4 linked regions of the Homo sapiens genome follow. The protein of the gene in region 3 interacts with the protein of the main gene of each other region in a pairwise test. Each region holds a gene or a part of one and is shown on either strand. Other genes may lie near its edges. The genes, in order: PITPNC1, WDFY2, SYP and PPIF.

Region 1 (7,692 bases), on a different chromosome or scaffold from region 3:
CTCAAGATGGGCTGCAGTCTGTGCAGACACACAGGCTGAGCAGTGAAGGGGTGTGAGCTGGGGATGTGCTGAGCTGCCTAGCAGATCCCTGGGACTTAGGGTAAGCCTTAGAGAGCCTCAGTTATTTCGTTGCACACTGGAAATTGAGAGCTGACTGTATATTGTATGCCAGCATTTTAAGTATCGTAATCTCTCAATCATTCATGCTAATGAAGGGTAGCTAGAGATAACAAAGAAAAGTGTAATCACCAAATCATTTCTTTGCATCTTCAGCCAGAGCTGTGATCTCTTTGGGTTCCGCCTTGAGTCCTCATGTCCATTAGCCCAGTCTCCAGAATAATACATAGTAGGTGTTAAAAAAAAAAAAAAAAATCAGCTGGGCGCGGTGGCTCATGCCTGTAAGCCCAGCACTTTGGGAGGCCGAGGCAGGTGGATCACCTGAGGTCGGGGGTTCGAGACAAGCCTGACCAACATGGAGAAACCTCGTCTCTACTTAAAATACAAAATTAGCTGGGTGTGGTGGCGCATGCCTGTAATCCTAGCTACTCAGGAGGCTAAGGCAGGAGAATTGCTTGAACCTGGGAGGCAGAGGTTGCAGTGAGCCAAGATCGCGCCATTGCACTCCAGCCTGGGCAACAAGAGCAAAATTCTGTCTCAAAAAAAAAAAAATCAATGCTGTAGTTCTAGGAAATTTAGATGTGGCTGTTGTCATAAATGGATCCTTTAGAATTGTGAAGACCTTCTGATTGCACTTTGGAAATTTTTAGTTAAATTTTTGGAGCATGTCTTTGGAATGTGCCCTGCAAGTCTCATGTGCTGCAACTGGTTGCATGTGATTGCCCTTGAGGTTGCAAGGGCCCTAACTCTTCTCCCATTTTGCATGCAGTGATCTGATTTGCAGGAAACTGTTGGAGCAAGAGGCGTTTCCTCTCTATGCACAGACCAATTCCAGTAGGACTTCCCCCTAGAAGTGCTCTTTAAGGAAACTCTCCTTGAATTTCTATCACTTTCAATTACCTTTTCTTTTAGAAATGTTGGGCCCCAGTTCCCCCTCAGCCACTCTGAAAGCCATTCACTATAAATATGACCAGGCAAACAAAGGAAGAAGCCACAGGTAAAGAGGAGACACCAGATGGCTAAAAGATGCTAAGCTCAGTGATTTTCTCACAGCTTATAAGCCCCTTGGCTTGGCTTTCTTTCAGTTTTACTGTGATTATTACTTTATAATTAAAGTCCATGGCTGGGTGCGGTGGCTCACGCCTGTAATCCCAGCACTTTGGGATGCCAAGGCGGGCGTATCACCTGAGGTCGGGAGTTCAAGACCAGCCTGACCAACATGAAGAAACCCCGTCTCTACTAAAAATACAAAATTAGCTGGGCGTGGTGGCGCATGCCTGTAATCCCAGCTACTCGGGAGGCTGAGGCAGGAGAATCGTTTGAACCCAGGAGATGGAGGTTGCAGTGAGCAGAGATTGTGCCACTGCACTCCAGCCTGGGCAACAAGAGTGCAACTCCATCTCAAATAAATAAATAAATAAATAAAGTAAAATAAATAAATAAAGTAAAATAAAAAATAAAGTCCACTTACTATGTAGAAGGTGATAACGTAGAGTGGTTCTTCCCATGGAAAAGCCCACATAATCTCTGGCTGCCCCTCAGCGTTGTTCCCGTGACTTCAGGGTGAAAGATGCCTGCCACCGGAGAAGTTACACAAAGTGGTTATTTTGAATGCTTATGACATTTCCATTATCCTTTGGAATTCCGTGAAATTGGAGCACATTTATTTTTCCTTAGTCTTTCTCCTGTATCATAATGAAAAGCAGTGAAAATCAGGAGGTGGCTCTTTGTCACAAATAAAAACTGCATGGGTGCTAAATGAATTTTAGATCATCAACCCAAGCAGGGACAAATTAGATTGAAATTAGGCAAAATTAACATCCATGAACACAGCAGTGAGGAAATAAGTCTTTTCAATTGAGCAGGTTCAAAGCCTTCAAGGACGGGAACTTCTAAGAGCCTCTGGGAGTGGAAAATCAAAATTCTGTGCTTTAGATTATTTCTGCCCCCTGCTGGCTATGTGGAGTAGAACAATGTATTCAGCCACTTGATTAAGAAAGTCTGCTTTTTCAAAGATAATATCCATTTATCATAGCAAAAACATAACATACCCTGATACACTAAAATTTTTCTCAGTCTCAACTTTATTGTGAAATAAATGCCTCTTTTTATATAACCTTAATCTCACTTCTTAGCTCATTTAATAGTCTTCCATGTTTTTAAAAATTGGTAAGTTTATAGGTACAATTTTTCTTGATATATGCTGAATTTTATATCTTATCCACATAGTCATAATGACTTATATCCTTTGTAAAAACTTTCCCTTTCAGAAAATTTTAATAATTGTTCCCAGGAAATCCTCTTAAGGATTTCATTTTGTGAAAAATACTTCTGGTTTGCTCAGATGTTATAAAACCTAAAGATTAAGCTGGGCACGGTGGCTCATGCCTATAATCCCAGCACTTTGGGAGGCTGAGGTGGACGGATGACCTGAGGTCAGGAGTTCGAGACCAGCCTGGCCAACATGGTGAAACCCCATCTCTACTAATAACACAAAAATTAGCCGGGCGTGGTGGCAGACGCCTGTAATCCCAGCTACTCGGGAGGCTGAGGCAGGAGAATCGCTTGAACCCCGGAGGCGGAAGTTGCAGTGAGCCGAGATCTCGCCGTTGCACTCCAGCCTGGGAGACAAGAGCAAAACTCTGTCTCAAAAAAAAAAAAAAAGAAAAAGAAAAGTCCTAAGGATTAATACTGTGTTATGAATATTCATTACATACTCAGTATTTCCAAAGTGGCTATATTGTTTCCTGCTGGTTATTCCCTCCAATATTATCTAATGAAGTTTCAACTGCTAAGTACATGGCAGTGGACAAGAAACAATGAAAAATGGGTCTCTGGGGGGCCAAAACAGATACAGAAAATCCGCGGGCACTAAATTTTGCATTTTGCTCCAGGATAAGCCTTGGGCCTTGACTCAGTCTTTAATAAGCCCAGGTTCCTCTTTTCCCTGTTCCCAGCAAGTAAAAATGGCAAAGGATACCAGGGATAGCCAGGGTAACAATAATTAATAATAACAGTAATAAGGCTGGGCACGGTGGCTCAGGTCTGTAATCCCAGCACTTTGGGAGTCTGAGGCAGGTGGATCACGAGGTTAGGAGTTCGAGACCAGCCTGGCCAACATGGTGAAACCCTGTCTCTGCTAAAAGTACAAAAATTAGCAGGGCATGGTGGCACGTGCCTGTAGTCCCAGCTATTCAGGAGGCTGAGGCAGGAGAATTACTTGAACCCAGGAGGTGGAGGTTGCAGTGAGCCAAGATCACGCCATTGCACTCCGGCCTGTGCAACAGAGCAAGACTCTATCTCAAATAAATAAATAAATAAATAAATAAATAATAACAGTAATAATAGAGTTTCTGAGCATGAGAGAAGAGATATCAAGCCATAAAGAGCAAATAGACCCTGAGAAGGAACTAAGGAACTGTATTTTTGCACAGTGATATATCTTCAACATATTATGTCTCAAATGTAGGAAGTATGTATAATACATTAAACACATTAGGGAAAGATTTACATTTTTTAAATACTGTTTTTACTTTCTCACTTAAATAAGAACATTTCAGGTATTTGGAAAACCTACATTATCCAACAATGATTATTAACAGTGGTATCACTGTCTTATTTGTTGAATTCCAAGTCATGCTTTTTTTTCTTTTAAATAGAATCCTCACTATTAAATGATCCTCTCCTTTCATTCTCTATTCTTTTTAAGTTTCCTCAAGAAATGGTTTTATTTTCTTGGCTTTGGAATGATTAGCAGGGTGTGGTGAAATTGTTGATTTACGTGTTTTTGAAACTGAATTTATTAAAACACAATCTCTGAACCTTCTTAGGATCGACACACAGTCAGGAAACCAGAAACAACAGCATCTTTGTGGCCCCTCAGAATAAAAAAGTATATGTATTGATTAAGAAGATAGCATGTTGGCCTGAGTACAGTGGCTCACGCCTGTAATCCCAACACTTTGGGAGGCTTAGGCAGGCGGATCACTTGAGGTGAGGAATTCAAGACCAGCCTAGGCAACATAGCGAGACCCTGTCTCTACAGAAAATACAAAAAAATTAAACCAGGCATTATGGCATGCACCTGTGGTTTCAGCCTCACGGGGCCCTAATGCAGGAGGATCACTTGAGCCCAGGAGGTCGAGACTGCCGTGAGTCATGATCGCACCACTGCACTCCAGCCTGGGTGATGCAGTGAGATCCCGTCTCAGAAAGAAAAAAAAAAAAGAAGATAGTATGTTGAAAAATCCTGATGATTTACCTGTTTACCCTATAAAGGTATACTTTCATGATCTAAAGTTGACAATAATGACAATAATATGTGTCATTTCAGGGCCATTGATTGTTTTAATTACCTTCTCTTTATGAAAAATATGACCAGTTAATTATAGCTCCAAATACCCCACACCAGACCCACAACAACACAGATGCACACGGGTGCACACACATACACACACACAGGCACATATTTCCCCCGTCTAGTTCTGTATTCTACTGTTAAGTCCTTATTGAGAATACTTAAAATACTCACTGTGAAGAGTGCTTTGGAAAATCTTAAATGGATAATCATAAAGGGATATTGTTTTCAGGGTGTAGCTTCCAATAGAAAAAATTGGGGGTTTGGTATTTCAATGATACTTTGGGTGTATAATCGGGAGAGGCCCCTTTATGATAGGGTTCCCATAGTTCCTGTAAAAACAAGGGTAGTGATGAATCTATTTGCCTCTCTTATAAATAACTGCTCGTTTTTCTTTCTGTTTTTCTCCTTGAAGACATGACAATGGATGAAGTCCGAGAATTTGAACGAGCCACTCAGGAAGCCACCAACAAGAAAATCGGCATTTTCCCACCTGCAATTTCTATCTCCAGCATCCCCCTGCTGCCTTCTTCCGTCCGCAGTGCGCCTTCTAGTGCTCCATCCACCCCTCTCTCCACAGACGCACCCGAATTTCTGTCCGTTCCCAAAGATCGGCCCCGGAAAAAGTCTGCCCCAGAAACTCTCACACTTCCAGACCCTGAGAAAAAAGCCACCCTGAATTTACCCGGCATGCACTCTTCAGATAAGCCATGTCGGCCCAAATCTGAGTAACTTTATATAAATATCTCATGGGGTTTTATATTTTCATTTGTTGTTGTTGTTTTTTTTTAAGAATCTTCTGATAGAGAAAAAGACTGCTTTGTCACTCAAACATGTTCCTTCGACCTTTCAGTGTGCATGTGACTCAGTAACTTCACATAGAATATGATTCCCTAAGTATGCTACACAGCATCATATTAGATGTAAGATGTAAGACTTGCAAAGGACAGAAGGAATCTTCTGTAACCACATAGCTGTATGCCAGAGAGGAAGCCTTGTTATTGGGCATTTGATGAGGTTTGGCATGGACTTCAAGGATAAATGAATGAAAACTTTGCACCACTTTTGTTACAAGGTACGGTAGAAAATAGTGAAGTCAGTTTCCTCTCATCAAATCTAAAATTCTCCAAAATACTCTCAGGCATAACATACTTAGCTGTTAAATTTTGAACTGCTAATTACTAATACTTGAATACCAATAGTTACTGAGATTCCTATTTTGTGGTTAGTCTGACTCAGGATTTGGAGCCTAATTAACTCTAAACTTTTGAAAATTTTAATCATCAAGCTATAGAGGCTCCAAGTGCAATTAATAATAACTCATTTATACCTTCCACAGAATTTAATAAAGATTCTACTTGTTTCTGTCTTTTAATAACTTTCCCCTTTTGTGCCCTTGTGGCCTCAGAAATCCTTAAGAATTGCATGGATGAATGTGACCATAACTGATTTTGGAATGGTTCAGTTTAGGAACCAAGAGGCCCAGGTGAGGCAACATCTTTTTTCTCTACAGGTACCAACAAACCTTGACTTGTCAGCTTCCATCATCAATTAAGATTCTCAGAATTTGCAATTAATTGAATAGAATTCATTTACTATCTGCCCACTCAAAGAAGTACAAGGGTAGAGTAAGCTAACTGGGCTTTAACATGGTCAGAATGTCTGGTGCATGAACTATAAAAAAGAGAACTGTCTCCCATCCCCTTCCTTGTTTTACTCTTAGTAACATCCAGAATTCCCTGGAACAGATTGCCTACCACCAGACCTTAGAAAAGACTGTCATTCTCTTGCTCCTTACTTGAAATACAAATATTGGGAATGTCACAGACATCAAGCAACTACTGTCAAGTGGGAGGAGAGAATGAGCAGAATTGCTGACTCCTATTTGTAGAGTGAAAAGGAGGAGTGATAATAGATGCCCTTCTGTCTAGCTTTCCTTTCTTCAACTAGTGGTAATGCAAGATTAGAATCAAGGTTGACAGGAGGCAAGGTCACTCACTGAAGTGACAGAAAGACAATTCTCCTTTGCTCCAAAGAGAGAAATCTGTCACCTTTGCACCTCACTGCCTTTAAACACAGACGGGAGGGCAGGCCAAATCTCAGCATTGACTTTTGTCCTCCAAGAGAGGAAGAGAAGAAGTAATTGGGCAACTTGGAGGCCCACGCCCCAGCTAGCCTTCCTGATCGTAACCTCCAACCTCAGGAAAGGGACCTTCCCAAAACACAGATCCCAAAGGAAACAAAATAGACCAAGGAGCATAATCTGCTTCTCTCACACAGCCTCTCTGCCAGTGGACCCTGCCTGCTTCCCTCTCAGTGCTCAGCACTCTGTGTAGTGTCTTTCAGGTTGATACACTCTCCCAAGGTGCAGGCGCTGGCCCCATGAGCCCAGCACCAAAGTTTTCTAAGTCATAGGTCAGACTGTCAAGATCATTTCTTTATCTATAGGTTGATATTTAGCTTAAAAAAAAAGAATAAACCTAGAACTCAAAGGAAACCTGTTGCAAATAGCTTAGATCAACAGTGTATCTCTTCCCTAAGAATGATAGTATCTTAGTAAGACACCTTCTATGCATGGTATGGAAGCATGATTTTTGCTTGTGGGAAAACCTAATATTTTATCAGACCCCTCGGACTTCTCAATCCCTCCCTCTCCACACAGTAGTACTTAATGAAAATGTTTTGCTTTAGAGAGCAAAATGCTACTTTCAGAAGACACTGAAATAGTATATGTATTTGCTTACCATTTGCAAGCTAAAATCAAGGTGGGATGGGGTCATTATTTTCACATAGAATGTATTTATTTTGTGCAGGCTGTTAAACACATCTGGCACCTAGTTTTTCCATTAAGAGCATTGCTATTTTCCCTTTTTATAAAGTAGCTTCTGCTGTCAAGGTTAACAATTCTATATGCTTTAGGAAGCTAAGTTCTAATTTCCTTTTGTGAGTTTCATTTCTTTTATAACCAGTATGTTACCACAGACATCAGTTGCAAAGCTACGATGATAGTGTGATTCTTAGCCGAAAAAAAAGCGTGTGCTCTTAAAGTATGTTCAGTTTTTCTGTCTACATATGCTTTGTGTGAGTTAAAAAGGGGGTGGGTGGTGTAAATATTCCTTTAGCTGCTTTGCATATTTAACCCAGTCATCAAAAGGCATAAATGACTTCAATATTTTATATATCTTGGTTTTCAAGTATCATTTCACATTCTCTATACA
Region 2 (7,692 bases), on a different chromosome or scaffold from region 3:
GGCGCCAGCTTTTACTCCTAAGGAATGGAGCCTCCATTTCCATAAAATGCTTGGAAGACACCCAACACCAGCACATATTTCTCTACAAATTACAAAAATGGGGGAGACACTTAATGCAAAACGCAAGAATTCACAGTATTACAAACACACAGTTGGTTTGCTAAACGCATTTCACCAAATTCAAGCACCCACACAGATGAGAGAAAAGGAAAGAGCAATGGATACCTTGACATATCTGGTTTTCTGATGATGATTCTCAACACCAGTGGGCTGTGAAGTGGCTTCAGCCTCTGAGTGGCTCTGTGGGCTGGGAGGGAGAAGGTAGAGTGGCGTGCAAGGTCACAGGCCAGAGCGACTGTAGAGGACATATGTGATCTGACGGGGACACTCTGCTTCCCGAATGAGGTCTGAACGCATCTAGACCCATCTCAGAACCCATACAGGCTTGCTGGGCGCCTGGGCCTTTGCTGCCCTAATACTGTGTTCCTCTCTCTGCCGGCAGGCCAAGCTCAAAGTTTAGGAAGGGAAAATGGAGTGATTCAGCTCTATTACTCATTTCCAACACACAGTCCTATATTACATACAACTTAGTAAGTGGCTGCAGCTTCTAGTAATAAACTACAAAATAGATATTTGAATATTTTAAATTTAATTCCCTTGTTAAAGTTCTCTCAAAGAGCAATCATGCAGAAAAGACTCAAAGTAGTTACAACAGTTTTGACTGACGCAAGCAAGGGTAGTCTGGACCAGGGCAGCGAGGCGACAAGTGCTAACAGCCTGTGCGGGGCATGCGTGTGTGCCTCTTCAGAGCTCCGGTCACATGGGCTGAGCCGGTCTGATGGCTCAAGTGACAGCTTCCATGTACCGTGGCTGCATGGGGCACATGCACTGGTCCTGCTTCCCAATGCTGGGGCAGCAGAATCACCTCTAGCAAGGCCCCATCCCAGGGAAACACACGTAGGGGCAGTACCTGAGGACAGCTTGTAGTACTTCCCCCTAGTTAGAGAAGTAATGAATGATTGTGAGGGCAAAAAACGGCTTTCCAGGAAAAGAGGGAAAATAATAGGGAGGATTTCAATTTCACTCCCATGTGTATTACTGCCAAAAAACCTGTAAAATCAGAAGAGAGCAAGACACTGTGGGGTGGGGCTTGGGTCGGGAAGGACAAGCAATTGGCCTGTGATCCTCAAGAGACTGGTGAGCTCCCTGATGCTCCCGACACGTGAGGTTGAATGAGCTGTGCGTGTAAAGTGCTTAGGAGGGGCAGGCACCTGGCGCAGGCTTGCCATTAATTTTTATTCTATTTTTACAGGTGAAAATAAGATTTTTAAAAGGGACTTCAATATCCTGAGCTGAATCACTACACACAAGAATATTTCATTTTCTCAAGCTTGACTGGATTCCCTTAGAAATAAGAGTTCTTCAGGTTCACTTTCTAAAGTCCTCTTTTCCATTCCCACAGAAACATAGCCTGCACTGTAGGTACCATTCTGTCTCGGACCACCCACATACCGTTTTAGTAAGAAAGTGTGCAAAGTGTTCTGATGAAACACATTAGGATAAAATGTTTAAATATCTAGTTTTTAAAGGGATAGAATACAGAGGGCGAGGAATACAGCAGGATTACAATCTTGCCGTAATGAACATGTTCAAGTTCAGAGATGATGTCACACAGAAAAACACAACTTAAAGACACTTATTTTCAGAGCATGTATGGTGGGGGTCCCCAACCCTGGGCTGCAGATGGGTACTGGTCCATAGCCTGTGAGGAATGGGGGCACCCATCAGACGTGAGCAGTGGGCAAGCAAGTGTTACTGCCTGGGCTCCGCCTCCCATCAGATCAGCGGTGGCGTCAGATTCTCACAGGAGCAGAAACTCTATTGTGAACTGCGCATGCGAGGGATTTAGGTTGCGTGCTCCTTATGAGAAGCTAATGCCTGCTGATCCGAGGTGGAACAGTTTCATTTTGAAACCGGTCCCTGCTGCCAACAAGGTTGAGGGCCGCTGATGTAGGATTTTGTGTGTGTGTCATTTGTTTTCATTGTTACGAGTGAGGGAGAGCTGCGTCAAAAAAGCTAAAACAAGAGGCTCAGGAGGCTCCAACTGAATTCTAAATGATCCAGGCACTGATCGTTGAAGCTCTGAGTTAAAATAATCTACTTCTGTGATAACCATGGTTGGGAGCAGCTTTCTCACAGCATTTTTTTTTTTAATGTGGGAAAGACAGAGGCAACTGAGGCAGAAACACAGTCTTTTCTACTTCATAAGAACGTGAATGAGGCAGACATTACAAACAAATCGCTCTTCAGGCAATTCCAGCAGCTGGCTGGTGAATCCACATGATGAGTTTCCAAATCTCTCCACTGAGGAGGACATGAAAGCAGAAACACTGGGAATAAATAACATAAATACATCCCCTCCAGGAAAGGCAGAGAAGGTGCAGGTAGGTGCAGAGGGAAGAGAAGAAAAAGCCGCTGGCCACGTGACACATGTTGAAGTAAACACAGAAAGTATAATGACCAAAATACTCTGAGTAGATACCTCCCTTATTTCTCTGACAAAGCAACAAGTAAAATGGGGTGTTGAAAAGTATAAAAATTAAACACCCCACACAGATTTTTCGGTACACTCAAAACAATGCAGCACAGCCAGACTGTATAAACCATTTGTTAAAAAAATAGCTTCTTTTATATTGTATGAACAAGTTGGAAGAGTCCCCTTGCGAGTGCTCACTGGCCAGGTCCCCACTGTGCACATGGGTAATCTGCAAATTCATTCAGGGTCTTTAGTTTCTTTCTTACTTCTCACATGTCTGCTTTACCACTCTGGTAATGATTTGGGTTAAAACAACCGTTTCTTTAGTAAATACTATCTTTCTGATTCCTGGGAGAGTCATCAAGACACGACTGGGGTCATATCCCACAACTGCAAAAAGAAAAAGAAGATACAGAATGAACTAAAATTGTGTTGAGGATAACAGTCCTTAGAACTGAATTCTTCAAGGAAATTTTTTTCATTTAACAAACCACCACATACTATACTAACATGATTTCCAAATCTGTAAAATATTTTTTTCATCAAAAAAGTTCAAATAAAGCTCAAAAACAAGACAATGACAGCTTGAAATTTTGATGCAGCTCATGAAGAATCATGGCAGATTCAATCTATTAATGGCTGAGAGGACTGGGAAGACAAGCTACACTGCAGATCCTCCTGTGAGTCACTAAAAGGGAAATGCTGCAGAGCACTGTGTTTACATCTGAGGCAGCATTCGATGAGCCAACATGAAAGCGACAATATAGATTTGTTCCACCCTCCAAATAGATTGAATCCATTAAATAACTCAATCCATTAACTGGACGCCAAGCACGTGCTGTGTCCTTTCCATTTAAACTTCCAAACCATTTTACAAGATACCTCGTTTTCAAAAATAAAGGACCTGAGGCTGCCAGAGTTTATCCTATTTTAATTAATTAATTATTTTGAGACAGGGTCTTGCTCTGTCACCCAGGCTGGAGTACAGTGGCACAATCATGGCTCACTGCAGCCTCGACTTACTGGGCTCAAGTAATTCTTGCACGTCAGCCTCCCAAGTAGCTGGACTACAGGCAGGAACCACCACGTCTGGCTAATTTTTGATTTTTTTGTTAAGACAGGGTCACACTATGGTGGCCAGGCTGGTCTTGAACTCCTGGGGTCAAGTGATCCTCCGTCTCACCTCCCAAAGGGCTGGGATTATAGGCGTGAGTCAACACACCCAGCCCCAGAGTTTATTTTAAACTTCCTCTCAAAGTCACGGAGATCTGGTAGCTTCCAAAGTGGGTTATTTTAGCTATCTCATCCTGCTGTGACCTCCAAGAATGGGTCAGGGAGGTAGAGCTCAGTGTGCTATAAATTCTCATATGTATTACCGTTTTGACTGCTACATATGTGACCTATTACAGTCTTTTTAGTCTGTCCCAAGTAGACTATCTATTCCTTGCAGGCTGGAGCTCTGTCTTATTTCTTTGTGTAGAGCCAGTGCCTGGGATGAGGCTGTGCATGTATCAGGTTTGTAATAGGTTCTCAAAAACACTCACCTTCAATGGTAACTTTTTTTTTTTTTTTTTTTTAAGAGATGAGGTCTTGCTTTGTTGCTCAGGCTAGAGTGCAGTGATGTGATCAAAGCTCACTGTAGCCTTCAACTCCTGGACTCAAGCAATCCTCCCTCCTAAATCTCCTGAGTAGCTGGGACTACAGACACATGCCACCATGGCCGGCTACCCAAGGATAACCTTTAGAACAGTGCCTCCCATGTTCTTGGTGCTCCTGTATATTTATATGAGGCCAAAGATGGAAAGCTTCTTAATAAGATGGCATCTTACCTTAATAACCTTGTCAGTTCCAGAAGTCAGTAACCATCCTCTGGTTGCATCGAAATGCACATGCACAATGTTATGTTTACTGTCATGGAAGGTGGCTGTGGGTGCACGTCTAGAAGGAGCAAAGAAAGCTTCTGAGGGGAAAAGGTGGTGACATATGAATGAGAGAGATCTAGGATGACATTAGGCTCTAAATTTTGGCCTCGTGGCTAAAACTGCTTCACTGACAGGAATGCTCCTCAGATCTGCCTTTATTCCCTGGTGACCAGTTATGATAAAAAAAAAATACAAGAAATCTTATAGTCTTTAAAATGGGAAAGAGATGAAAATTTCTAAAAGTCCTTCTGGAGAATGTTGCTCCAATGGTGTCTGTGATAATCTCCACCCGAGCTTTTAAAACCACAGGGCTTTTGCTAAGTTTGAGCTCAGAAGGACTTGCCAGTAAAATAGTCTAATTAAAAAAAAAAAAAGGACCAAGATAGTACTAAGTGTCCCATGATATTACTAAGTGTCATTCTAATAGGAAAACTATCCCCCTCCATTCATTTTTCCTTTTTCACTGGTATGACTGAAGACTTGGTTTTTCTATAGTATTCTAAAGCTGTAACAAGCAAAACAAAATAAAAAACAAACATCATTATTTTTTACCTATACTTTTTTTTTTTTTAAGTAAGAAGACTTGTCAGCTGCCTAGGTGCTCTAGAGGCAATGCAAGTGCTTCCACAGAGAAGAGGCAGAAGAAACAGAGGCGGGAAAAGGTGCAGGGTGCAGTCTAGGAGACTGCTCTTATCATGCTTCAAGGGGCCCACTCCACTGCAGTGGGCTCTCAGGACAATTTTTTTTTTTCCTTTTTTCTATAGCTAAATCTGCAGGATAGATCTTCAGTATCTTAAAATGGTTACTTTAAATTTTTAGAAGATTTAGGCTTAACTGTAAGTCCCTTAAACTCTTAAAGTCTATGTCTTTAGCTACAAAATGAAGAATTAAAGTAGGCTATCTCTAAGGTCTCTTGCACTCTCTAATTCAATGAGAAAACTCTCATTAATTTCATCACGTATGATGAGTAGAAAATAATCAATGAACATAAATGCATACTTATGCAAGGGCATCTTATTTTATATTTGATATGGATAAATAAGACTACTTATGATTTTACTGTAATACAAGGTGCTGGAAGGATTGAGAAGACAAGCTACCCTGCAGATCCTCCTGTAAGTCACTAAAATTAGGGAAATGCTGCAGAGCACTGTGTTTACATCTGGGGGCAGCTTTCAATGAGCCAACACTAAAGAGATAACATAGATTTGCCCCCACACCTCCACAGCACACCAAGGGGTAAGTAACCTATGTCCTGGGTTACTGGGCAGGTCTGACAAGCAGCCAGCTGAGTAACTGGGCAACTGGGAATATTTGCCTCTTGGGTAAAGCGACTTAGCTCTTCCCGGAAAATGAAACCTTCTGGACCCATGGACTCACTCAACTCCTGTAAAGATACCAGCTTGGGACAGAAAGTGAATCCTGAGCCCTTATACTCCTGGGTAATTCTCAAGTAAATGAGCAGACAGAAGGGTTTGTTCTGGGAGCAGCTAATTTAAAGGCACATAACCTAGAAATTAGAAAGAACACAGAGATGAATTCTTTGAGTGTATTTTCTCTTCTCTCATCTCACAGGATACCACAAATCTCTTGGTGGCAAAGGAGAGCTTTTACTGCTTGCCGTGGACTATATTCTAAACCAGCAGAAACTAGAGCAACCTGAGTGATGGTTGCGGCGCTGAGTGCAAGGCTCAGATTAAATTCTCGCCTTAACCTGAAGCGGTCTGCAGGCTGCAGGAACTTACTCTTCATCTGTGATGGCCTCGTGGCAGCTGTCACAGACCCTCACTTCAAACTCGAAGCCCATCAGGGGGATGGAGGAGCGCTTGGAGCTGCACTTGCCACAGACGGCCTTCCCACACTTGCGGCAGTGGTGCTGGAGGAGGGAGATAAAATAGATACTCATCACGGCTCCCTCAGCTCCTGAGGCCCCCGCATCTCACCCCTCCTGGCAGAGAGGTGTAATCAACTGCATCCAGGTGAGGATGCTGAACAAGAGAGCCCCAGAACTAAAGGGAACACATTGGATGTGTTCTTCTCTGGGGCTCTGTTTATTCAACAAGGACTGTTGGGTAACACACCTGACAGGGATACCACCCCACTCTCCTGCTTTCCCTACTCTTGGTCCTTTCCAATGATCATACTAGGAACTACAGAGGAACCACCCAGGGGCCAGGTGATCTTAAAGCGGGGTGTCTGAGAAACTGCCGTCTCAGGAGATTATGCTGCTGGATGAAGGAGAACATGCAGGAAACCTGATTGAATCTGCTGACTTTGGCCATGGTAAGCCTAGGTGACCTAACATTTGATTTCCTTGGGGAAGACCAAACAGAACCATGGAATCAGATTGAAAATGCTGTATTATAAGTAGATCTAAATAACTAAAATTAATCAGAAGGAGGGAAAGTAAAATAAGGAGAGAGAAACACCACTTATATAATTTCATGGTCTGGTTTCCATACGAACTAAGCATGACACCTCTAATTGTAAGGTGCACTGCAATAGAGGCCAACAGAATTCTAAAATCACATCCCTAACTGCTTACTGGGAACCAACCACTACAGAAACTGAATCCAGTAGGAATGGGCTATGGTAGACAGAGTAAATTACTGTGCAATCACGAGGTGACTCCAGGATAATAATTTACCCTCACCACAACTCCCACCCAGGGGTGTTATTTCTTCTAAGATCACATGGTTGAGCTATTTCCATATAATTACATTTTGATGAAGCATCCATATCACTCACCTGTCTTAGACCAATTTTCTTACTGTCCCACATTTGCTTGAAGTTCCAGAAGAAAGGCTGATCACACTTTTGGCAGGAATCACTGTCCAACCATTCAGGGGTCTTGTCAAATAAAGCACAGAACAGGTCACTGTGGCCAGCAGTCAGGACAATGGAAACCACTGACCCTGATGAAACTTATGGAGCTATCAGGATGTGTTTAAAAGAAACAGAGGTGTGATTTCTCAGTCAATCATTCAAAAAATATTTACTGAATGCCTATTCTGTGGCAGGCCCTGGGGATGGGATGTAGTGGTGAATAAGAATCTCCACCATCATGAAAATATGATTAATAATTATTTACATAAGCATAAGTGTGTGAAGGCCCAAGAGGGAGAAGCACAGAGTGCTTTGGCAGAGAGATCACAGGAGCCTCTGACCCAGGCTGAGGTTCTCAGACAAATAAGACAACTGAGACCTGGGGATGGCTGGAGCACAGATGGGGAA
Region 3 (7,692 bases):
CACCCCTTAGCCTTTTCCTCCTGCCTTTCCTCCCCTATATCCTCCCTCCTATCTGAGGGAAATCTCACTTCTCTTTTTCTTTTTTTTTTTGTTTTGAGACAGAGTCTCGCTCTGTTGCCCAGGCTGGAGTGCAGTGGCGCAATCTCGACTCACTGGAACCTCCGCCTCCCAGATTCAAGCGATTCTCCTGCCTCAGCCTCCAGAGTAGCTGGAACTACAGACGTGCGCCACCATGCCCGGCTAATTTTTATATGTTTAGTAGAGACGGGGTTTCACCGTGTTGGCCAGGCTAGTCTCGAACTCCTGACCTCAGGTGATCTGCCCACCTTGGTCTCCCAAAGTGCTGGGATTACAGGCATGAGCCACCTCACCTGGCCTCTTTTCTTTCTTTCTTTTTTTCTTCCTTTCTTTCTTTCCATTTTTTTTTTTTTTTTGAGACAAGGTCTCGCTCTGTTGCCCAGGCTGGAGTGCAGTGGCAGGATCATAGCTCACGGCAGCCTCAACCTCCTGGGCTTAAGTGATCCTCCCACTTCAGCCTCCTGAGTAGATGGGTCCACAGATGCATGCCACCACGCCCGGCTAATTTTTGTATTTTTTGTAGAGGTGGGATTTCATCATGTTGCCCAGGCTGGTCTCGAACTCTTGGGCTCAAGCGGCCCGCCCGCCTCGGTCTCCCAAAGTGCTGAGATTACAGGCATGAGCCACCAAGCCCCGACCCTCACTTCTCTTTTAAGGCCCAGCAAGAAGGCCGGCAAACCTTTCCAGGACCCCACCCTATCCCTCTTCCTCCTTTGAAATTCCACACTACTTCCCTCCCCTCCAGCGTTGGGGAGAGGCGGCAGATCTATCCCCTCCTCCCGGATTGGTGAGCTCGTCTGACCTTCAAGATCCACGCCCATTTACCCTCACCATCTATTGGCCTTATCACCTATTGGCTTATCAGTCACTTCTAAGACCCACCTCCTCGTCGCTTCCGTGGCTCTTGCGCTCCGCTGATTCGCCACTGCGCAAGTCCCCCGATATTCCCTCCCTTTATTGGTTGCTCTGCTTCTCTCCCCCCGCCTTTCCGCCGAGTTGCCCTTCTACCTCCCTCCCATTGGCTCTTCATTCTGTCCATCTTGAAGCACCATTCTTCTTTTCTCCATTCATTAGCTAGTTTTTCAGCTCTTAGCAGGTAGTTCTGCCTCTTGATTGGCTCCTTCAAACTTCAGTCCTTACTTGCCCCAGTAAACGCCTTACGTACTCTCTACCCCTGACTCTTATTGGTTCACTGACCCGCTCGTCTCCTTCCTTGTACCCTCCTTGGCCGCACCGCTCGCCGGTCACTCACCAGACTACATCTGATTGGAGAAGGAGGTGGGTGCACCCTGCGGGCCGTAGCCTTGCTGCCCATAGTCGCCCTGAGGCCCGTAGCCACTGCCACCGCTGCCGGCTGGTTGACCATAGTCAGGCTGGTAGCCGCCCTGAGGCCCGTAGGAATCCTGGGGCCCGTACCCGCCGGGGCCCTGCCCGTAGCCTGCATCGCCGTAGGCGTCCCCGGGTGCCGGTTGTTTCTCGGGGGCGCCGGGAGGCGCGCGCAGGAACGGGGCGGCCCAGCCTGTCTCCTTAAACACGAACCACAGGTTGCCGACCCAGAGCACCAGGTTCAGGAAGCCGAACACCTGCAGGGAGACAAGGCTCGGCTGTGGTACCCCGCCCATTGCCTTGGCGGCCCTGCGTGCAGGAATGAGCATGCGGGGAATGAATCCGTAGGCTCCGCAAGGTGGGGGTTTCTGAAACCCAGACTCTCTGAGTCCCAGTGCGAGAACGTCGATGTGCAGAAAAATCACCTCTGGCGGGGTGGGCGTGTTAGAAGAATTTGGAGCCCTGGGGATGCTGCGATCTATCAGTATTACATATACAATTATTTACATATTTGCACATATACACATTATATACACATTTATGCATGTTTAAAATGTAAATTTGTAATATATTCATAGTAAAATGTAAGGATACAAACTTATTAAATATAGCTATACCACTAACATGCATCTAAATAAATGTAGATAAAATATATGTATAAGTGCACATGTATAAGATATATGAAACTTGCATAATTTTTTTTTTGAGATGGAGTTTCGCTCTTGTTGCCCAGGCGGGAGTGCAATGGCACGATCTCGGCTCACCACAACCTTCGCCTCCCGGGTTCAAGCAATTCTCCTGCCTCAGCCTCCCGAGTAGCTGGGATTACAGGCATGCACCACCACACCAGCTAATTTTGTATTTTTAGTAGAGATGGGGTTTCTCCATGTTGGTCAGGCTGGTCTTGAACTCCCGACCTCAGGTGATCTGCCCGCCTCGGCCTCCCATAGTGCTGGGATTACTGGCGTGAGCTACCGCACCCGGCCACATAAAGTAATTTTAAGACATAAAACACTTTCTGTACCTTTCCTTATATGCCAAGCCCTCTTCTAAGAGCTTTACATGTTATAAGCTCACTTAAAATTCAGTTTTGGGCAGGAAATACTATCTCCATTTTACAGTTGAGGAAACTGAGGCCCTAGAGGCTAAGTTACCTGAAGTCTCACATCCAGCAAGTGACAGGAAAGAAAAGTTGTAATCTTAGCATCTGTAACCCTTGTATACGACTTACCTTGTGCCAGGCCCTTTTCTGAGCACTCCGTATTCTTAGTTCAATAAATACTCAACTTTGGAGCAGGACCTATTATTAGTCTTCGATTATGCATGCTCAACTGAACCTTGAGAGGCTGTGACTAGTTTCAGGTCAGGGAGCTTGCAAGAGGTAGAGCTGGGATTTGAGCGCAGACAGTCTGACTCCAGCCAGTAGGGGGCATCCAAGTGGGGAAACATTTCAAGTTTTTCCTTCATTTTGCACATGAGGAAACTGAGGTCCCAAGAGGGTGCTGAGTTGCTTATTTTACATGTCTAGGCTGGGTCTGGGATCCAGGTCTCCCAAACCTGTCATGTTCCCCCTTTGGGGACAGTCTGTGGTGTCACAGTGGTTACAATTGCTAGCTCATCCTTCAACGTTGTTGTTGGCACGCGTTCTTCAGGGACACCCCTTGGATCTCCCCTGACTCTCCTCTTATTCTCCCACTCCACCACTCCCCATGCCGGACTGTACTGTTTTCCACTCTCCCTCCTCCAGCCAGCACCCAGGGCTTACCACCGAGGTGTTGAGTCCCGAGGTCACAGGGTCTCTCAGCTCCTTGCATGTGTTCCCTGTCTGGCGGCAGACAGGCATCTCCTTGATAATGTTCTCTGGGTCTGTGGCCATCTTCACATCTGACAGCCCCTTGGCCCATGCCGATGAGCTAACTAGCCACATGAAGGCGAACACAGCCGTGGCCAGAAAGTCCTAAGGCAGGCAGGGGTGAGGAAGACAGCACTGTGAGTGGACTGCTTCACGCTAGGCCCTGGGGCCTCCTCGGATCACAGGTCCCCCAGAAGAGGCCTGTCTCTCCCCTGCCTTTTCAGCTCTCAAGCCCACAACACTTTCACCTGAAGGTGGCCCTCCCAGCTTGAGCTTGTGTGTGTACATGACACAGAGGATGTGGGAGTGTGATTGTGATATGTGGCTGTGGGTGTTGGGGGGAGGGGAACTCTGGGATGATTTCCGAATCTGTGGAAAGTAATGTGTCTTTCTACTTTTGTCTGCATGTGGGAATTTTTGTCATTTTGTGTCTAGGCTGAGGGTATGTGAGTACAGTGGTGTAGGAATCAGTGTGTCTGTGTGGCATGATGACAGGCATGACTGTCACAGCGAACCTCTGTGGGCCTCTTCCTTTGATCTAGGCTGTGTAGTTGTGTGAGAGTGGGAAGGTTCTCAGGTGTGGGCCTGTCTGGGATTCTGCATAGGCTGTATGTCTCCGTGACTCTATGACTCTGTGTCCCGGATGCCTGGTGTGGATTAATAGCAGCAGCAACTATATGTGTGGCTGTTATGGTGGCTGTTTGCATGTGGGCCTGTCTGGGATTTGGTGTGGTCTGTGAGCATGGCTGTGTCCCTGGGGTTCCGTGTCCCCATGGTCCCTACATGCAAGTGGCTGTGGGGACTCACCAGCATGGGCCCTTTGTTATTCTCTCGGTACTTGTTCTGCAGGAAGATGTAGGTGGCCAGAGCCCCCATGGAGTAGAGGAAGGCAAACACGGCCACGGTGACAAAGAATTCGGCTGACGAGGAGTAGTCCCCAACTAAGAAGACCTTGGTGGTGCCCCCTCGGCAGGTGGGTGCATCAAAGTACACTTGGTGCAGCCTGCAAACAGAGGTGGGCAGGTGTGGCCCAGCCCCTCAGAACACCCTCAACCCTCCAGCCCAATCATGGGTCCCCCCATTTCTGACAAGGCCCCAGGAAGAGGAGGAAATAACCATTCATCGAGCACCTACTATGTACCAGTCACATTTCACTGATTGCTCAAAACATCCTGGTGAGATAGGTGTTATTCATCCCTCACTCCAACCCAAGCACTCTGGCCTCTTGATTATTTCTAGAACTTGCCAGGCATCCTCCCTCCCTAGGATCTTTGTTTGTACTGGCTGTTCCCTTTGCCAGGAATGCTTTTCCCCTAGATAGCTTCGGGTCTTACTCCCTCATCTCCTTTTTTTTTTTTTTTTTTTTTTTGAGATGGAGTCTTGCTCTGTCACCAGGCTGGAGTGCGGTGGCACAATCCCGGCTCACTGCAACCTCTGCCTCCCGGGTTCAAGCGATTCTCCTGCCTCAGCCTCCTGAGTAGCTGGGATTACAGGCATGCGCCGCTACGCCCAGCTAATTTTTGTACTTTTAATAGAGACGGGGTTTCACCGTGTTGGCCAGGATAGTCTTGATCTCTTGACCTTGTGATCTGCCCGCCTTGGCCTCCCAGAGTGCTGGGATTACAGGCGTGAGCCACTGCGCCCGGCCTCCCTCATCTCCTTGAAGCTTTGCTCAACTGTCACCTTCTCATTGAGACCTTCCCTGATCTCCCTACTTAAAATTAAATTGAAACATTCTCTCAACCAGCACTTCTTAGCCTGGCTTCCTTGCTCCACTTTTCTCGATAGTAGTGGTACCCATCTGACATACCAGGTATTTTTTTTTTTTTTAATCTTGGTTTTTGCTGTAACTACAAGAGGGCAGGGCTTTTTCCTGTGTTTTCACCTCCGTTTATCTCCAGGCCCTGGAACAGTGCTGGCACCTAGCAGACACTCAAGAAATGTTTATCAAATGAAATGTACAGAGGCGGAAACAGAGGCTCAGGGAAGTGCATTAACTTGCCTAAAGTCACACAGCTGGCAAGGGAATGTCAGAGTTGAGATCTGAACCTTGTTTTCTCCCTATCTCATGTTGACTTTTCTCCCCCACCCCAGTTCAGGTCCCCGAGAGAAAAAAATGTATGCATAGCAGAGGAGAGGCCAGCGACTAGATAACAGGAAAAGACAGACAGAAAGAAAGGAGGGTAAAGGGATCTTGGAACAGGGTGTGTGTATGTGAGGGAAGAGGGGAGGTGTCCTGGGACTAAGGCCTTTCCTGTGGTGTGATGGAGGAGAGGTGGGGGTTGTAGAGAGAAAATGTCTGTGGGAGAAGTTCTGGAGCACAGTCTCAGATTGGAGGCCAGGATCCTGAGACTGAGCAAATGGTGCCAATGCCTTTGTGTAGCAAAGGCCCTGAGGGAAGAGGCTTGCACTTATTAGTCACCTACTAAGCAGTTTACATAAATGTCTCATTAATGACAGCCTCCAGCAATTCTCTAAAGAAGGCATTATTAGACCCTTTTTACAGATGAATAAACAGAGGCTTAGCAAGGTTATTACTTGCCCAAGGTTGTACAGCTCCTAAATGATGGAGCTAGGAGTTGCATCTGGGTTTGAGTTTCTGTTTCTAGTGGGCTGGGTCAGGAGAGGGGGTCCCTAAGAGGGAATGAGAGGTCCTTGGGTATTAGGGCAGTTTGGGAGGGATTTTGCTCAGGGGGACCCAGGGCCAAGACTGTTTTTCTAGGGGACTTGTGGGCTAGAGCCTTAGGACCCAAAGTTCTAGACATGGGAGGCGTGGGGAGGGGGCACAGGGGATGGTTGTGGTCTTGTGGATCCCCAAAGGACTGGCTCTAAGCAGTGTCCCTTGCTGCCAGCTCCCCCTCCTTCCCCAGACTCTTTTCTCCCTTGCCTTTGTGGACCCATGGATACCTGGCTGCCCCTCTGCCTCTCAGGCCACACTTTCCCGGCATCTCCTCTCTTTTCCATCATTGCTCAGGGCCTGTGCTAGGTTTTCTTCTACTTTCACTCTTCCATCTCCCCACTGGGTGATCACTTGAGCCTACATTTACCCTCAGTACTCGAAGACCCCCAGTTTCCAACTCAACCCCTGTCCTCTTTCCTGAGTCCCTTAAATTTATTTTACTTATTGAACAGACACTGATGGAGCACTTATTGTGTGCCAGGCACTGTGCTAAGCACCTGATGAATATTAACTCATTGAATGCTAACCACGACCCTGTGAGGTAGATATTATTAGTATTCCTTTTTACAGATGAGGAAATTGAGACCCAGAGTGGTTATGTGATTTGGCCAAATAGTGGGGGAGTCTCAGAAACCTGTGCGGGGATTGTGTCTGTGGGTCTCTGTCATCCCACCCTGCAGGAGGTAAACATCATTGTGAGGGTAGTGCCCATGCCAGCCGTGCTCATTCTTGTGCACCTAGCACCCAGTGTATTGCCCGGCACACAGTGTGAGCTCAATAAATGTCAGAATTGTTTAATTGGGTTTAATTTTTCCCTATATCTAAGCAGCACCCCTCATTATTCTATTCTCTACCATAAAACCCTACATGAGGATCTCCTCGAGTTTCTCTCAGTCTGCTATTATCCTCTTTGTTAATTTATTTGTTATAATGTAGGCTCCATGAAGGTAGGGAGTTGGGTCTGGTTTTTTTTTTTTTGGAGATGGAGTTTCGCTCTTGTTGCCCAGGCTGGAGTGCAATGGCGCGATTTCGGCTCCCAGGTTCAAGTGATTCTCCTGCCTCAGCCTCCTGAGTAGCCGGGATTACAGGCATGCATGACCACGCCTGGCTAATTTTGTATTTTTAGTAGAGACGGGGTTTCTCCATGTTGGTCAGGCTGGTCTCGAACTCCTGACCTCAGGTGATCCGCCCACCTCGGCCTCTCAAAGTGCTGGGATTACAGGCGTGAGCCACTGTGCCTGGCGGGAGTTGGGTCTGTTTTAGTTACTATCATGCTTCCAGCACTTTGAGTAGTACCAGATATAAAATAAGTTCTCAAAAATGTGTATAGAATGAATGAATGGGGATTAAATAATAATATTGGCTAACATTAATTGGGTACCTACTGGGTTAAGGTATGTATATACACCTGTCTTACTTTTGTATCTTGTTTATTGCCTGTCCCTTACCCCTTCGCTGGAACAGAGCCAGAGGGCCACAGCCTATGTCTGCCTTGCTCACCACATAGTCCTAGAGTCCAGAGCAGTGCCAGGTACAAGGCAGGTGCTCAGTGATCCCAGTGGATGTAGCCTCGAGGTGGGAGCTGGGCAGGAGCTACTTGCGGGGGGAGGTATTGGCCGGTTCCACCCTGCCCCTTCCTCTCCCAGGTCTGTTGGTATCCCAGGGTGGGAGCACACCTGAAGGGGTACTCGAACTCGACCTCGATGCTGAGGTCACTCTCGGTCTTGTTGGCACAATCCACGCTCAGCTGGAGCTC
Region 4 (7,906 bases), on a different chromosome or scaffold from region 3:
AGACCCAGGACAGAGTCTGCCCAAGGCTGACATCTTTCCTCAGGCCTCAGCTAAGGCCCAGGCAGCCGTGGCCAAACCTGCATGGGGCACCCATGGCCAGAAGAGCCTGGTAGCAGCCCCTATGCCTAGCGCTGCCCAGCCCAGGCCATGGCTGGCTGCTGTTTTCCTGAGATGGGATCCGTGGGTAAGAGAGGGGAACTGACCAGCCCAGCTGAAGCATCCACAGGTGTCAATTAGGTGCTCCCTAATTGATATCCCTCCCAACGGATGACTCAGGACTCTGGTCTGGACTCCCGGTGCCACCGCCTTGTGCCAGGGAGCCCTCCCGCGCTGGAGTTCCCACCCTGGCTCAGGACTTCCACCTCAGCTCCTACTTTACCATCAGCCTTAGGGCTGGGCCAGGCCTGCCGTCCCTGTGTTCACCCCGTATCCAGGCTTCGCCGCACATAGACGTCCAGTCCCAACCCGCTGCCACTTACCACGGTACGATGACGGCCACTGGGTCAGGGTGGAGGGAATGGGGAGAGAATTCCAGGCAGGAAGGTCTTCAAAGAGGTCATGACAGCCATGCCCCTGCCTCCAGGCTCTGCCTGCCCAGGACACCCAATCCCTGATCTTGAAGGTCTGTGCTAATAGAAGACCAGCCCCAACACCACCTGGGTCCTGACCCACAGGAAGCTCCTGCTACAACACCTACCCCCAAACCTCTGACACAGCAATACCAATGCTTGTGAAAACTGAGCATGACACATGACCGAAAAACATTCATTTCACCGAGAATAATGCCTTTCTCTGGGAAGGGAAGCCCCAAGTCCTGGCGTGTGTGTTCCTGCCCTGGACCTGTCTTCCTCCTCCGCCTCCTCCACTTCTCTCTCTCCCTCTCTTATCTCCCACACCAGTGCTCAGGGGCACACAGGGGACAAGGTCAGAGACCACTGGAATATGCTGGCTCTTCAAAGTCTTCAAGGCCACCCCCAGCACATCCATCTCCCAACCCAGCTCTCTCTTGATAGACTCCACCTCCCAGTCCCCCGGGCAGGGCCTGCCACTGACCTGGAGTGGCAGCGGGTTGGGGCTGGGCTTCCATGTGCAGTGAAGCCTGGATACAGGGCTAATGCAGGGAGGGCAGCCTGGCTGACAGAGCAACTGCAGCTGCTCTGCTCAGCACCTTCCTCATACCAGGCATCTTCACACACCCACAAGGCAGCTCCTGCTCTCATCCCCCCTTACAGAAGAGGAAACTACATTACCTGGCACATGAAGGAAGGGATCACCCTGTGGAAGGTGGAGCCTTTGTAGCCGAAGCCCTTCTCACCAGTGCACAGGGCTCTGAAGTTCTCTGAGGGTCGAAGAGAAACACAGGTCAACAGGGCCAGGCCCCAATTCCAGGGTCATACCCGTTCCAGCCAAAATCCCTGCTACATCCCCAGCAGTGAACAGGGGGATAAAGACTCTGGCCCACCTCTTGGGTCTGCTCTGCCCAACTCGCTATGTAACTGGACAAGTCACTCCCCTTCCCTGTCCTCAGTACCTGAGCACTGTGACAAGAGTACAGGCTCATGGCTGTGCTGGCCAGCAGGGCACGGACTCAAGGGCTGTGTGCCCATCACCCTGCCTCACTGGGCACCAGGAGTGGGGAAGTCTCCGGGAAATTTACATGTGCCTTCCACTGGCTCTGAGGCTCCCAGCTACTATGAGAGAGGAGGGCAGAGCCAACGTTGAGGCCCAGAGAGGGATGGCAGGGCTGCCCCAGAGCACCCAATGGCTGAGCCACACATGGAGCTCCCATCTGTCAGGGGTCTCTGAGCCCCGACTCTTCTCATCACGCCACCCACCTTGCCCTGCCTGGCCCCCTTCCCTCTAGACCCATCTCAGAAGGCCCCAGGCCCTGTCTTACCAGCTGTCTTTGGGACGACATCTGCCTTCAGCTGTTGGGGGAGAAGAAGGACAAAAGAGGATGGTCATTGGAGAGGCAGGTGAAGGTGGGTGTCTCTCAGCACCCACCCACCCCCACAGTGGCCAAGGAGGCTAAGGAAGAAGCACGTGGACATTCCATTCCCATTATTGCCAACCCCCATGGGAGGCAGCTCTATCATTTCTGGGAGCCGTTTCCTGAACCCAAGGCTGGAGGAGGTGGCCTTGGTTTCCTAATCTGTCAGAAGAGATGACAATGCTATCTTGGCCTACTTCTGTGGACACAGCTGGCAGTGCTCCCACAGCTGGGCCCAAAGCATCAGAAATTCAGGGACAAGAGAGTGTGTCTAAGGTAGAAGCCAGACCAGCTCCTCCATTCGGGGTTGGGAAACTGAGGCCCAGGGAGAGGCATGAGGGTGTGGGGAGGGAAGGCTGAAGCCCCATCCCAGCCAGCCTCTACCCTCGAAGCTGCAAGACCCACCCTGGAACCAAATGGAAGCAGGAAGGGTGTCCCTATTTTCCAGAAGAAACTGAGAATGAAGAAGAAATACTAAGGGCTCCCTGGGATACGGGCCAGTCAACACAAACAGACCCCTGCTGTCAATGTGTGGCCGACCTGAAGGCTCCACTAGGGCTTTCCCTCTAAAGCTACCCTGGTGACTGTTTCTTACTTTGCTTTAGAAAAGACCCAAAAACAGAGTTAGGGGAGGTGCTCAGTGTGGCCCCCAAGGACAGTGGCAGGGGTTGAGGCGCCGGGCACACTGTCTCTGAGTGTGTCCCGACTCGCAGGAGGGGCATTCTGGGGTCCACCAGGTGGCCGGGGCCTGAGGCCTACTGGGCCCGCACTACTGCTGGAAACCACCTCTCGCTCCATTTCCCAGCACCCCCAGTGTGAGCCCGACCGCAGGGGCGGGGCCGGAGCCAGGAAGCGCTCCGTGTTGTGCAAGGGCCGCCACGTGAGCACCCGCTGGGCCACGACGCTCACCCCAAGACCCCCGACACCCACCTCGGAGCTCCGGATCTAGGCTCAGCCCCAGAAGGCTCCTGGAGCCCCTCCCTCGTGCCCGGGCCGGCCCAGAGGTGCTGAGCCCTCCCTCTCTGCGATCTGACCTTGAGCTTTCTCCTCCACACGTGCCCTCCCTCCCGTCTCCCCCGCTCCAGTGCTCCGAGGGAGGCCGGAAGAAATCATTCTGACGCCCATTCTCAGAAATGGGGAAACTGAGGCCCAGAGCTCGGCATGGGGAGGCCCAAGGTCACCCAGCGCGCCCGGCACCGCGCCGCCCGGGGCCCAGGGCTCTCCCCGGGCCCGTGTCCCGCGCCCAGGCCGGCCCTGCGAGCGGTCTCACCTCCAGCACCACGCGGCCGAGCGGCTTCCCGTTGGCGTCCACGTCCAGGTACACGAGCGGGTTCCCGGAGGAGGAGGAAGAGGACGGGTCGCCGGAGCCCTTGCTGCAGGCGCGGGCCGCGGGGAGGCGCAGCGGCACGGAGCGCGGGACGGAGAGCAGGCCGAGCCAGCGGGAGCCGCAGCGCAGCGCCAGCATCGCGGGCGCGGGTCGGGCGGGACACGGGCGGGGAGAACACAGAACTCAAACTGACGTCGCGCGCGCCCAGAAGGCCGAGTCCCGCGCAGCCGCGCGCCGCAGCCTTTATTGGCTTGCCCAGGTTCCCGGCCCTGCCCCCGTCCCGCCTCCTCCAGGCCTGTCCGTGGACTACCCCTGCCGGCCGCAGCGGGCAGCGCAGCCAGCCGGTGGGGCCGCGGAGCGTGAAGTGCTTTGAAACACTCCCGCCTCCAGGCCCAGAGACCCGGAGAACAGACACCTGGCAAAAGGTTGCTGGTTCCATGTTTATTAAGGTACCAGCAGATTTTTTTAAAAAAAGAAAAACTGCTAAAACGTAATTAATTCCAAAATATGAGCATCTATACGTTGCAATTTGAATATAATAGCAAAAGTCTACCTTTGAGCCCTTTGCAGGTAAGGCTCAGGCCAAATAAGCTTCCCTGCTGCCCTAGGTCCTGCAGTCTGAGAGGGTTAGAGAAAGGTGAGATGAGAGGCGGGATTAGTGAGCTAGAGGCGCAAGAGGGAGGAGATAAGCTGAGACACCTCCCATGATGCCCCCTAGCCTGCTTGTCCCGGCCTGGGCCTGTCTCTAGTTGTTTCTGGGGACCAGACCTGCTTCTAGCAAGACTGAAAACGCAGCCTGGGCTCATCATGCTCCTTTCAGGCCCCCAGCCCTCCCCAGGACTGGGTCTGATCCCTCCTCCTAGGACCCACACTGACAGCCCCGGGGCAGACTGCCAGCTGCCCCCTCCCATCAGCATGCACCCTGGGAGGGGACTCAGTGGGGAGACCCACAGCAGGAGCATTTAAACCCCACGTGCTGAAAGTGGGCTTCCCAGCAGCCAGAGCCACCCTCACTGCAAGGTGGTGGGAGGTCTGCAATAAATGGATGCCACGCAGGGACCTGAGAGAGCATCTGGCCCAACACTTGTACTGTCCCCAGGGGAAGCTGAGGCCTGGACACAGGAAGGCACTGGCTAGGGCTAGGGAGCCCTGGAGTATTGCTACCAGCTTGCACCAGTGCTCCAGGCCTCTCTGGGCCTCAGTTTCCCATCTGGAGGGTAAGGGTGCGATCATGCTCCTCATCCTGCTTTTTTCTCGTGTCTGTTCTTAGGATAAAATGAACGAGAGAGACATGGATTTGTCAACTAAGTACTGTGCCTGTGGGCATCTGTGATGGACAGAGTCTGGACTGTCTTTCTCACAGTTTGGGATTCAGAGAGCTGCGGTCTCAGTTAGAGGCCTGAGGGGTCAGAGAAAGGGGTGGGGCTGAGCCTTGGAGGCAGGTGGGCAGGAGTAGGGACCAGCTCTGGACTGACCTGCCCCAGATCCTGAATGGGCTCATGGGAACAGGTCAGGCAGCAAAATGCCAGCCAAGCAAATTCATGAGGTCAGAGCAGTGCCCTAGCTTCATAAGAATGCTAGCTTGGCCTCTGGAAGTTTGGCTAGCTTGGCTTCTGGAAGTTCATAGCCCCCTTCTCCGATTCCTGGCCTAGGAGGGGCCTAGGCACCCAGTGAAGCCCAGGTGGGATGCATTCCAGGTCCCAGCCCAGAATGGGGCCTCACTCTGCCCTGGGGAGCAGCCCCTCCTTTCTTATGATTGTGCCCTGAGGTGAGCAGGCCTGAGTGGGGAGCCCACTTGAGCCCTCAGCACATGTCCCAGACCTTCCTCTACCAGTGCATCCTGTGGATTTGAGAGTGGAGGAATCACGCCATGTGCCTTGTCATGAAGCTTCCTTAAGGCCCCAGGCTTCCCTGCGGCCAGTTCCAGGCCCTGAGCTCACAGGACCTTCAGCCACAGCAGGTAGCTCAGCGTACCCTGTTGTTTCTCAAGCCTGCTCCTGGGGGGACTCAGTTTATGCCCCATCCTGATGAAGCATGAGCATCCCCACCCCAGGGGAGTGCTGCCTTCATTCACTTGACCACTTCAGTTCTCAGAACCCTTTCCCAGCTGTGAACTCTGCCTGAGAGACAGCTCTGTTTTGCAGATGGGGAAGCCAGGCCCCAGGGGCTGGGGAGTGAATTGCCCAAGGGCAGGCTGTTGGAACTGGGACCAGTCTGTCTGACTTCACAATCAGGGTTATTGCATGTCAAACCCTTCTCACTCTCACCACGAAGCTGGTCCTTGGGACAGGGTGGGGAGGCAAGAGAGATAAGCCTGGGCAGACAACACAGTAAGATAGAAACGGTGGAGTTGGCCAGGGGGCTATGGAGCTCAGGGACTAGGGAGATGGTTTTAATAGTGAGCATGAGCTGAAAGGCCTGTGGGGACCCAATCACAGAGGGCTCTGAAGGCCTGGCTGAGGTCTGACATTGTTGGATAGCACTGGGGAGCCATGAATAGTGCAAAGACTCCATGCTGAGGACTCTGGACTGGGAACCAGCTTCTTTCATTCATGTTACTCCTTCCACTCTCTTTGGAAAATCAAACGTCATCACTACCTCCTAAGCCAGAGAAAAGCCTACCTTCCCCAAAGGCTTAGCTATGATGTCATCCCTTCCTGTTCTGTTCTCAGTGGTATCAGGAAGAAGGATAGTCTATAGGCTAAGCCATGAGCTGAACACATGCCCAGCCCTTGAGGGCTCCGGGCCCAGGTGACATCAGGCAGGTGTTAGCACTCACCTGGCTCTGAGGCTATTTATAGACTGTGTTATCCTCAGAAACAGCAGTGTTTCTCTCCACTCAGCTCACATGGTTTTTTATCCAGGGTGCTGATGGGTTTTGTCACCTAGGGATCCTGTAACACCACCTCTAGGCCTCACAAAGCCAAAGAACAATCAGTTTGTGCTAAGCTCAGAATCTCATTCAGGGGTTGCAAACTCAGATGCCTGCGGGGGCCAGGCAGGTGATACACATGAGTGGTGCAAGCTGGTAAGTATGTAGGGAGTGAGGGGAGGTGGCACTGTATCCAGATAGCTAATGGATGTCCCAGGTAAAGAGGTAGCTGCTGCCCAGGCCAGCCAATTATTGTATATGGGACTATGGGTCCACACAGGCCACCCAGGTTTTCTCATCTTTCAATAAAAGCTGAAGACTTTAAGTTTTATAGAAATCTAGTTTTCAAATTTTTGAAATGAATTTCAAAATAAAATTAAACACCGAATGAACTGTAAACACCGTATCCAAACTAGATGAGGACTCTGGGCTGATAGTTTGTAAGCTCTGATTTCCACTGTACAGGTGAGAGGACTGAAGCTCAGAGAAGGATGGGGAGTGGCCCGAGGCCATACAGCTGGGCAGTACCAGGACTGTGGTCAGACCCTCTCTTCACTCTCCCCAGGGCCCTTTCTGCAAAGTTCACTCAGCAGACATGTTTTCAGAGCACCTACTGTGTTCTGAGCCCTGAGCTTCACCCTGGGGATTCAGAAGGACAAAGACAGGGACAGGAGGTTATGGTGTCCTGAGATGCTGGAACTGCTGAACAAACCTCTCCCAGGTAGCCCTGTGTGTGGCAGGAGTGAACGCTGTGGTTGTCGTGGGGTACAAAGTTACAGTTGTTCTGGAGAGACCCTCCAGGAGGGGCTGGGGGTGAAGGTAGCCCCGGTGTGGGCATGAGGTGGGGTTTCTATAATATTAAATATCATGAAGGCTGAGATCATTACCAGTGCCAGTCACTGGGTCATACAACCTGTGCTGCCAGCCTAGACAATGGTCCTTAGGTAGGATGAGGCCATGGACTTCATCTGTCTGGTTATGCTTGAGGGGTTTGGGGTCCAGGATAGCATCTGTCATGGGAAGGGAAACTGAGAGAGAGGTTCCCCGCGACTCAGAAAGCCACCAGACCCTTCTACTGGGTTGCTGTGGGACTCTCTGGGGATGGAGTGTCCCCCGTGGCCTTTGCAAAGTCAGTACATTCATCATCCTCTCTCTGCTGGCTTCTAAGAACCAGACCATGATGGGGAGGCAGAGGCAGAGAAGGGAGGTTCCACTAAGGCCCAGGGAGGTGGTGGGCACAGTGATCAGAGAGAGACCCACAAGGGGAAGATGGGGCGAAGCTCTCCTCTGGAGTCCAGCTGGTCTTTTACTCGTGTGATCTGGATCACTGCGGGCCACTGAGAGCGGAGCCAGTGTGGTAGGGTGGAGCTCAGTAGGGTGTGGCTCACCCTCAGCTGCTGGGCTCTCACACAACCTGCCTGGCCACAGCCCCCTGCAACTCACAACTCAGCAGAGCTTGCCTTCTGGGAGTATCTGCAAGATAATCCATGTTTGTTGTTTGAAGCCACTAAGTGTTGGGTCATTTGCCATGTGCAGTGGATAACTCATACCCATAGTACCCCACCCCAGCCAGGACTCCTGGAAGATCCCATTGCTCCATGCACAGCCAGTCCTGGATCTGCTGTCTCAGCAAGCTTGGTCACCAGCTCTTGGCAAGGACCTCACGGGCATGGTCAGGGAGAACTGGTCCAAGAGACAGGACTTCCTTGTCTTTGTA

Evidence for each region.
Region 1: the proteins of SYP (region 3) and PITPNC1 interact in binary tests that used the Homo sapiens proteins (3 or more experiments, as listed by UniProt).
Region 2: the proteins of SYP (region 3) and WDFY2 interact in binary tests that used the Homo sapiens proteins (3 or more experiments, as listed by UniProt).
Region 4: the proteins of SYP (region 3) and PPIF interact in binary tests that used the Homo sapiens proteins (3 or more experiments, as listed by UniProt).

What each region holds. Positions count from the first base shown.
Region 1 is NC_000017.11:67,687,683-67,695,374, forward strand, and holds part of PITPNC1 (cytoplasmic phosphatidylinositol transfer protein 1), read left to right. Parts: intron 1-1,588; exon of another isoform or gene 1,589-1,691; intron 1,692-4,889; coding exon 4,890-5,206; 3' UTR 5,207-7,692.
Region 2 is NC_000013.11:51,754,974-51,762,665, reverse strand, and holds part of WDFY2 (WD repeat and FYVE domain-containing protein 2), read right to left. Parts: exon of another isoform or gene 7,309-7,692; coding exon 7,207-7,308; exon of another isoform or gene 6,335-7,206; coding exon 6,204-6,334; exon of another isoform or gene 6,126-6,203; coding exon of another isoform or gene 6,034-6,125; intron 4,475-6,033; coding exon 4,366-4,474; intron 2,927-4,365; coding exon 2,897-2,926; 3' UTR 308-2,896; coding exon of another isoform or gene 284-307; 3' UTR 1-283. UniProt on the Homo sapiens protein: Acts in an adapter protein-like fashion to mediate the interaction between the kinase PRKCZ and its substrate VAMP2 and increases the PRKCZ-dependent phosphorylation of VAMP2.
Region 3 is NC_000023.11:49,190,103-49,197,794, forward strand, and holds part of SYP (synaptophysin), read right to left. Parts: coding exon 7,613-7,692; intron 4,260-7,612; coding exon 4,064-4,259; intron 3,362-4,063; coding exon 3,170-3,361; intron 1,662-3,169; coding exon 1,335-1,661; 3' UTR 1,331-1,334; intron 1-1,330.
Region 4 is NC_000010.11:79,343,098-79,351,003, reverse strand, and holds the start of PPIF (peptidyl-prolyl cis-trans isomerase F, mitochondrial precursor), read right to left. Parts: upstream 3,536-7,906; 5' UTR 3,456-3,535; coding exon 3,261-3,455; intron 1,929-3,260; coding exon 1,898-1,928; intron 1,340-1,897; coding exon 1,251-1,339; intron 1-1,250. UniProt on the Homo sapiens protein: PPIase that catalyzes the cis-trans isomerization of proline imidic peptide bonds in oligopeptides and may therefore assist protein folding. Involved in regulation of the mitochondrial permeability transition pore (mPTP).